2 linked regions of the Homo sapiens genome follow. The protein of the gene in region 1 interacts with the protein of each later gene in a biochemical or structural test. Each region holds a gene or a part of one and is shown on either strand. Other genes may lie near its edges.

Region 1 (3,820 bases):
TGAATGCCTGTAATCCCAGCTACTAGAGAGGCTGAAGCAGGAAAATAGCTTGGACCCCGGAGGTGGAGGTTGCAGCGAGCCAAGATTGTGTCACTGCACTCCAGCCTGGGTGATGGAGCTAGACTCCATCTCAAAAATAAATAAACAAATAAGTAAATAAATAAATAAATATTCACAAGAATGCTCACCTTGTCATTCCAAGACATCCTTGGGGTAGACCTAGAAATGCATACTTTATCAGCTCATGGTTTCATTGCCCTTCAACCAAACAAGAAGCACTAACACCACAACGGAGCATAGCTCAAAAGATGCATGCTGAGTGAATAGCCAAAAACAATTGTTTGGTAAACTACTCTGCAATTATCTCCTGATTAGCCTGATGGCTTAGTTTTATTAACTAAAGTGTATAATTATGCTCTTATTAATATTCTATTTCTTCTTGGCAACCCAATGTCCCCTGACCTTCTTAAAAGTTTTGCCATAAAGCATTGCAGGTAGTTTATCCATGCGTGTGACAGGGTCCTAAAGTAAGTCCAGATTTTGCTGTCCAAATTGAAGTTCTAGACCAGTGGTTCTCCACCGGGAGTGACTGTATTATGCCCAGGGGACATTTGGTAGTGACTGAAGACATTTTTACTTGTCACATCTGGGGCACTGGGGGTCCTACTTGCAACTAGGAGGTAGGGGCCGCGATGCTGCTAAGCATCCTATAAAGCGTAAGACACAAGATTTACCCAAGGCCGGGCGCGGTGGCTCACGCCTGTAATTCCAGCACTTTGGGAGGCCGAGGCGGGCGGATCACGAGGTCAGGCGATCGAGACCATCCCGGCTAAAACGGTGAAACCCCGTCTCTACTAAAAATACAAAAATTAGCCGGGCGTGGTGGCGCTACACGGGAGGCTGAGACAGGAGAATGGCGTGAACCCGGGAGGCGGAGCTTGCAGTGAGCTGAGATCGCGCCACTGCACTCCAGCCTGGGCGACAGAGCGAGACTCCGTCTCAAAAAAAAAAAAAAAAAAAAAAGATTTACCCAAAACATTAACAGTGCCAAGGTTGAGAAACACCAATCAAGACTGAAATTATACAGCTCCCAGAATGACCAAGGCTACATCTGTGCTCTTCCCTTCTGAGGACTTATTTTCCTCAAGATTAACTTGGTACTTCTATTCTGGTCACTCCTGTGAGCCACACAGAATAATCAAGAACTTTCTCCTTTTTCAGGTTTGCTTGCAATATCCATCCATCAGGCCAACATCTCTTAGAATTTTATTTTGCATCTTTATAATGATCAACAATCTATGAACAGCAGAGTGTTATTTTACCTGAGTTTGGTATTTGAAGACGAGGTTTAACTTTTTTCCTTTTCTATGAGGACTATCGAGTTTTCAACTCCAAGAAGGAAACTATGTTGAAGTGTGTTTCCATTATTTAAAATAAGACATTTAAATGGAGAACTTATTTCTAGACCCTCAGTGTTCCCTTTGATCCCAGTGTCTTTCCACCAGAACCTTACAAAATGACATCCCCTGAAACTCAGGAGTTCTTTGCTATGCATTGCAACTCTGATTGGGCATTCCAAGCCTTCTGAGAGTCACTGATCAATACTGACTCTAATGAGCTCTGACAAATGAGTTTTCAAGCTGCTTCAAATCCCAAAACCCCAATTTTTGACTCTCAGTAGGAACCAAGGTGTGAACACCCAATATGTGCAGGTCTCCTGGGAAAAAATATAGTATTCCTAACATGGTACACATCCTAAATTTGGTAGGGGACTAAGAAATACTTGTCAGTTGATTACAAGTGTTGGTCAAAATACCCCAATCCAGTAACTACTGGGCAAAATCTCCTGACATTTCTCTCCAGAGGAAGGGTTATATACAGTACCTAGTTACCTTACGAAGATATTTCAGAAGACAGGGATTGAAATAAGTAATAAAAGTTGACACATACAACAATGATCACAATTGCTTCCACAAATAGAAGACTCATTGCTAATCAGTTGACCCTTTATACGTATTATCTCTAATTTTCACAATAACTCAATCAAATAGAAATTGTATCCTTCTACAAAAAAGGAAACTGAGGCTCCAAGAAATGATGTTGCTTTCTAAGGTCACACAGCTACAAAGTGGTGATTCTCAGTCTACAGAGCACAATGACCGAGGCATAACTGTGTCTCTCACTGGGGCTCTGTTCCCTTCTCTCCTGGCTGTTTTCCCACTTTGAAGGGTTATTCATTTTGTTGCTTGTTCCTACAAAAAAATTGAAGATAGTGGTACCGCACATTCTAAGTAGCAGGGGATCAGGATCACATAAAGGCATGTTTTCCCAAGCTCCCACAGCCTCCAGGGGTGGCTGGAGGCTAAGAATTAATTCCATTCCAGCCAGTGGCCTTGAGTTATAATTCAAAGTGAATTTTGGAGAAGGGGCCAGCACACAGAGGTCTGAAAGGAGGAACTTCAATATGAATATATCGAGGCAGGGGTATTCTCTTCCTCCTTTACATCATTTCCTTCCATTTAAATCTTGCTCCATGTGCCACAGAAATTTCTACAAGAGTCGAGGACACGGAGTTCAGTAACAATCTCTAGCACAAGTTTCGCATTGTCCTGCTTTCTGTCTTCCCCCACAGCTAAGGCCCTCAGCTCTGTGACCTTCCGGATGATTTATCTGGCTGAATCTTTGTTCCTGGTTACCTGTGCACATGAAATCGTCTTTCTTCCTGTTCATTTGGTACTACAGGGTGCTAAAGGCATGAATTCAAAGCTCCTTCAATCTGTGTTTATATCTGAGCATTAGCAGTGGGTTTTGAAGTACTGGTCATTTCAGGTGATATTTTTGTGTACTATTTCAAGATCATTTACAGCTGACCTTGCAGCCTTGTGGGCTTTGATACAGGTGGACTGAGTGTGATAGACAGATGAAAATGAAAAAAAAAAAAAGATAAGAACAGTTGGGTTTATGGGAATAGCAACGAGAGAGATGGAGTCTGGTCCTGAAGAAGGCTCAGAAACACAATATGAGAGCCTGCTTTTAGATTCTACTTCTCAGCTAATGACAAAACAAGATGAAAAGGATGGAAAAAAAAATACCTGCCCCATATCCCTACTCACATTTTTTTTCCTTCAGGACAGACAAGAGTGAATATAGGTAAACCAAACCCTATTGAGAGTCTACCTGTTATCTACGTGTTTAGGGAATGAGGAAAAGAGATACAAGATGCGATGGAGGCTTAAATTATCCAAATCATTAACTGTAAGTTATTTCTTAAACTGCAGCCCTTGGATCAGCTGCATTAGAATCCCATGGGGGAGCTGGTTAAAATGCATATTCCTGGGCCCTCATTCCAGACTTGCAAAATCAGAATTTCTAGGGGTAGATACAAAGAGTCTGTATTTACCGGACTCTCCAGATGAGTGATATGGATGCTCATTAAAGTGGGAGAGCCTCTGCCAGGAGTGGAGCAGAAGAAGGTACCTCTCTTAGGATCTTTGCTAAAACCTGAGTGTTAAGATGTTTATGCTAACTCTACCTTGCCTGTCCCATTCACCCTCCTCCTCCCTTTCTGAAGGGAGAATCTTCAGGGCACTTACCTGGTCTGATGGGGCTCTGCATACAGTTCGGAGATGGGATGCCAGGGTGAAGGGGTGCAGAGGCCCGGCTGCTGAGGTCCATGACCGAGGGGGCAGCCGAGGAAGCTGGCTGCAGCCCAGGAGGGTGAGGGCTGTGGTCATGCTGAGATGGGCTGGGGGGAATGCCATTTTCTGACAAAAACTCCTCCAGGTCCATGTATTCCAACTGGAAAGTATCTCCGTCATAG
Region 2 (3,820 bases), on another chromosome or scaffold:
ACAAAAGGGTTCTTTACACCATTTTTAAACCAGATACCTTGCCTCCAATAGTAGATTTAGTCATCCAATGATACACACAGCTACAATGCCCTCCTGGAAGGAACAGGGAAGGGATTACTCACGTGGTGAGTAATGATTTGGTTCAGAGATGATGTTCCTTTGGTTCTGCAGAAGGTTTGGGATATACTTCCATTTTCCTAAGCCAGTCGTCTGCTTCCTCACCCGCTTGTGACCAACGACACTTGTGTGGAGCTAGTGAGGCTAAGGTGAGGGCTACAGCTCTGGGGTCTGTATACAGGTGGAGCCGCTGTCCTGGCCTCTTTGACCCTGTGATTCTCAATAAAGCTGGTCTTGCTGAGGTGATCTGCCAGTGGAGAGTAATCCTGACCCATTCCTTCAGCCCCACAGAGAGAGAGGAGAAGGGGGTGCTCTTCCGTGGAGTGTCTGGGCTTCAGATCAACCCACCCCATTTCTGAAAAGGGCAGCTGGCATGACTGTCATGCAACACAGTCTCTGGGTTGGAGAGCAGGCCAGGGACCCTACAGAAGAGGTCTCCACCCCACAGTTCCAAGAGAGGTCAGATAGGGGTAAAGGTGGCACCACTCTGAAGTTCCCAGGCACCTGGTTCACTCAGTTATCAAATGCAGCAGTGACAGAAAGTGCGAGAGAGCCAACGCTTCATACAGGTACTTTTTTGATATTGTAGTAAAATTCCGTGAGTATTTACATTTACCTTCTGTGCTAGGCAGCATAATCGATTCACTCCTCACAGAAGTTTACATTCTAATCTCTTGAACCTGCGACTATGTCACCTTACATAGCAAAAGGGACTATGCGGATGTGATTAAGAAGCGTGAGATGGGGAGACTATCCTGGATTATCCAGGCAGACCCAACGCAATCATAAGGGTCCTTGTAAGTGAAAGAGGGTGTCGGGGAGTCAGAGAAGATGTGACAACGGAAACAGCACCAGAGTAACGCAGCCTGAGAAAAACGCAACCGGCCATTGCTGGCTCAAGGAGACTACAAGCCCAGGAACACTGAAGCCTCTGGAAGCTGGGAAAAGCAAGAAAACGAATCTTCTCCAGAACCTCCAGAAGGAAGGCAGCCCTGCTGCCATCTTCATTTTGACCCAATATGACCCACTTCTGATGTGTGACTGCCAAAGCTGGAAGATAGTAAATTTGTGTTGTTTTAAGCCACCAAATGTGTGAGAGTTTGTTTCAGCAGCAGTAGGAAATTAACATCCTTTCCTTGGGAAATTCTAGGCTTCCCACCGACAGGCAAGGCATGAGATCTTCCTCCTCTCTTTGTGACCCAATGGCAATGCCTTGGTATTTGTGAAATGGATCTACTCGACTGTGCTCCATGAAAGATCTTGTCCAAGATATTGTCCTCCAGATACGTATTCAGTCCAGATTTACAACTGATGTTTTTAAAACTAGTTTTTAAAAATATTAATGTACCTGGCTGGGACTAGGAGCTTCTTCAGGAGTAATGCCTTGGCCATCCAGCAGCACATGTGGTCTGAATACAGGGCCATGCACTAACTGGGAGCCACAGGTCCCCTCTGGGGGCTATTTTGGTAACATGACACTAGAACCACAATTGCTTCAGGAGCAAGGGGGAAGAAAGAAAGGAGGCAAAGGGCATTGCCGTTCTTCTGTGGAAATTCTTCAGAACAAAGGCTAGGAGGCACCTTCTGTGACACTAGTCTAGAGACCTCAGTCTCTTTCTAGGGCCCAGCCTTCTTACTTCTAGGAAAGAATCTGACATTTATGATTTATGCCACACTGTGAATTTATATCGGAAGGTCACCTCTCTGTGGAGTATGTACATTCTAAATTTGTTCTCTGTTCATTGTTAGAGTTTTAAGATTGCCCTTTTCCTCTCCTCTCCCCAACACACCTCAGAGTTTCCATGTTGCCAATGCCCCAGAATGGCCTTGCTGAGACGAGCATGGCAGGAGACCTGGCACAATGCCTCATGCCTGTAATTCCAACACTTTGCAGGGCCAAGGCAGGTGGATCGCTTGAGTCCAGGAGATTGAAACTACTCTGGGCAACGTGGCAAAACCCCACCTCTACAAAACTACAAAAATGGCCAGGCGCAGTGGCTCACACCTGTAATCCCAACACTTGGGAGGCCGAGGCGGGTGAATCACGAGGTGAGGAGTTCGAGACCAGCCTGGCCAACATGGTGAAACCCCATCTCTACTAAAAATACGAAAAATTAGGTGGGTGTAGTGGCGGGCGCCTGTAGTTCCAGCTACTCGGGAGGCTAAGGCAGGAGAATCGCTAGAACCCAGGAGGCAGAGGTTGCAGTGAGCTGAGATCATGCCACTGCACTCCAGCCTGGGCAAACAGAGACTCTGTCTCAAAAAAAAAAAAAAAAAAAAAAAAAAACCTACAAAAATAAGGGCTGAGGGGATGAGGTGGGAAGATTGCTTGAGCCTGGGAGGTGGAGGCTGCAGCGAGCCATGATCATGCCATCACACTCCAGCCTGGGCAACAGAGCAAGATCCCGTCTCAAAAAGACAAGAAAGTATAGCAGGAGAGAGCTAAACTAAAATCTTTAATTACACACACCAACCCCGACAAAGACAAGAACATGGAATGGTGGCCCATTCCTCAGATAGATCCTTGGATGCTTTCAAGGCCAGTTCCTGGTATGGAGCAGCTCCACGTCCCAACTGCAGGATTATGCAGGTGTATGCATGAGGGCGGAGGGAAAAGGAATGGCTTAGGATAAATCCTAGGCTTCTGATTTGAGTGATGAGAAAGATGGTTCGCTCCATTAACTGCAGTTTGAAGACAATGAGAAGAGAAAGTCTCAGGGTAAACGGACAATAACACTCTTTTATGGATGTGGTACATCACAGGAGCCTGCAGTGGACCCATGGAGAAACAGCTCAGCAGACACTGAAGCTATGGGGTCTAGGGTCCAGGACAGAGGGCCTGCCTGGAGTAATCAATGTTGGGAGCTGATGCTGGGAGAACAGATTAATAGATTAAGTCTTCCAGGGTGAGAAAAAAAAAAAAGGGCAGAGTTTGAAACACTGGTCACCACCAACATTTAAGCCAATAAAGGGTCGAAGGCTAACAAAGAAATAGAGAAAAAAATCGGCGAAGAGGGTTAGGAAAACTAGGAAATGTGGTCTTTTAGAAGCAAAAGAGGGGAAAGCTTTAAGAAGAGATGGGTCCAAAGTGTCGAATGTTCTAACAAGGTAAAGGATGATGAGACCAGAAAGAGAGTCCTGGATAGGGCAGTGCCAGGGCACTGATGGCTGCAATGGGAGCAGTTTCTGTAGGGTGTGTGTGTGTGTGTGTGTGTGTGTACACACACACATTGGGTACATGTGTGAATGTGTGTGTTTGTTTGTGTGTATATATATGTGTGTTGAGTGGAAAGGGGGTAGCAGAAATTAAATCACAGAGGATTGGGGAATAACCAGGAACCAGGGACACAGAGACAACAGGTGTAACTACTCTTTTTTAAGAAGCAAAGATGTTAGCGGATTACTTTGGAGGGAAACAAAACAAAACAGGAAGTAAGGACGTGAGGGAAGAAAAGAAATGGAGCAAGAACTTGAAAGGGAATCAGGGTCCAGAAGAGGCTCTGTTTTGTTTTATAATGAAATAAACTTGACCATGAGAAGCACTCAGTGGATGAGGGAGAAATGAACACGTCCGTGAGCAAACAGTGAGAACACTGGGCTGGAAGGACCTGGCAGAAATTAGATATGAGTGTTGCTGAAATCGTGATAAAGAGAACAGTCATCACCCCCACTCCCGTGCAAGGCAGAGGCTGTGTGGCTCTAA

The links.
Region 2: the proteins of HLF (region 1) and BATF3 interact in a test that uses a peptide from one of them, tested with the Homo sapiens proteins (one large-scale study listed by IntAct).

The regions. Positions count from the first base shown.
Region 1 is NC_000017.11:55,267,860-55,271,679, reverse strand, and holds part of HLF (hepatic leukemia factor), read right to left. Parts: coding exon 3,594-3,820; intron 1-3,593.
Region 2 is NC_000001.11:212,693,114-212,696,933, forward strand, and holds part of BATF3 (basic leucine zipper transcriptional factor ATF-like 3), read right to left. Parts: intron 1-3,820. UniProt on the Homo sapiens protein: AP-1 family transcription factor that controls the differentiation of CD8(+) thymic conventional dendritic cells in the immune system.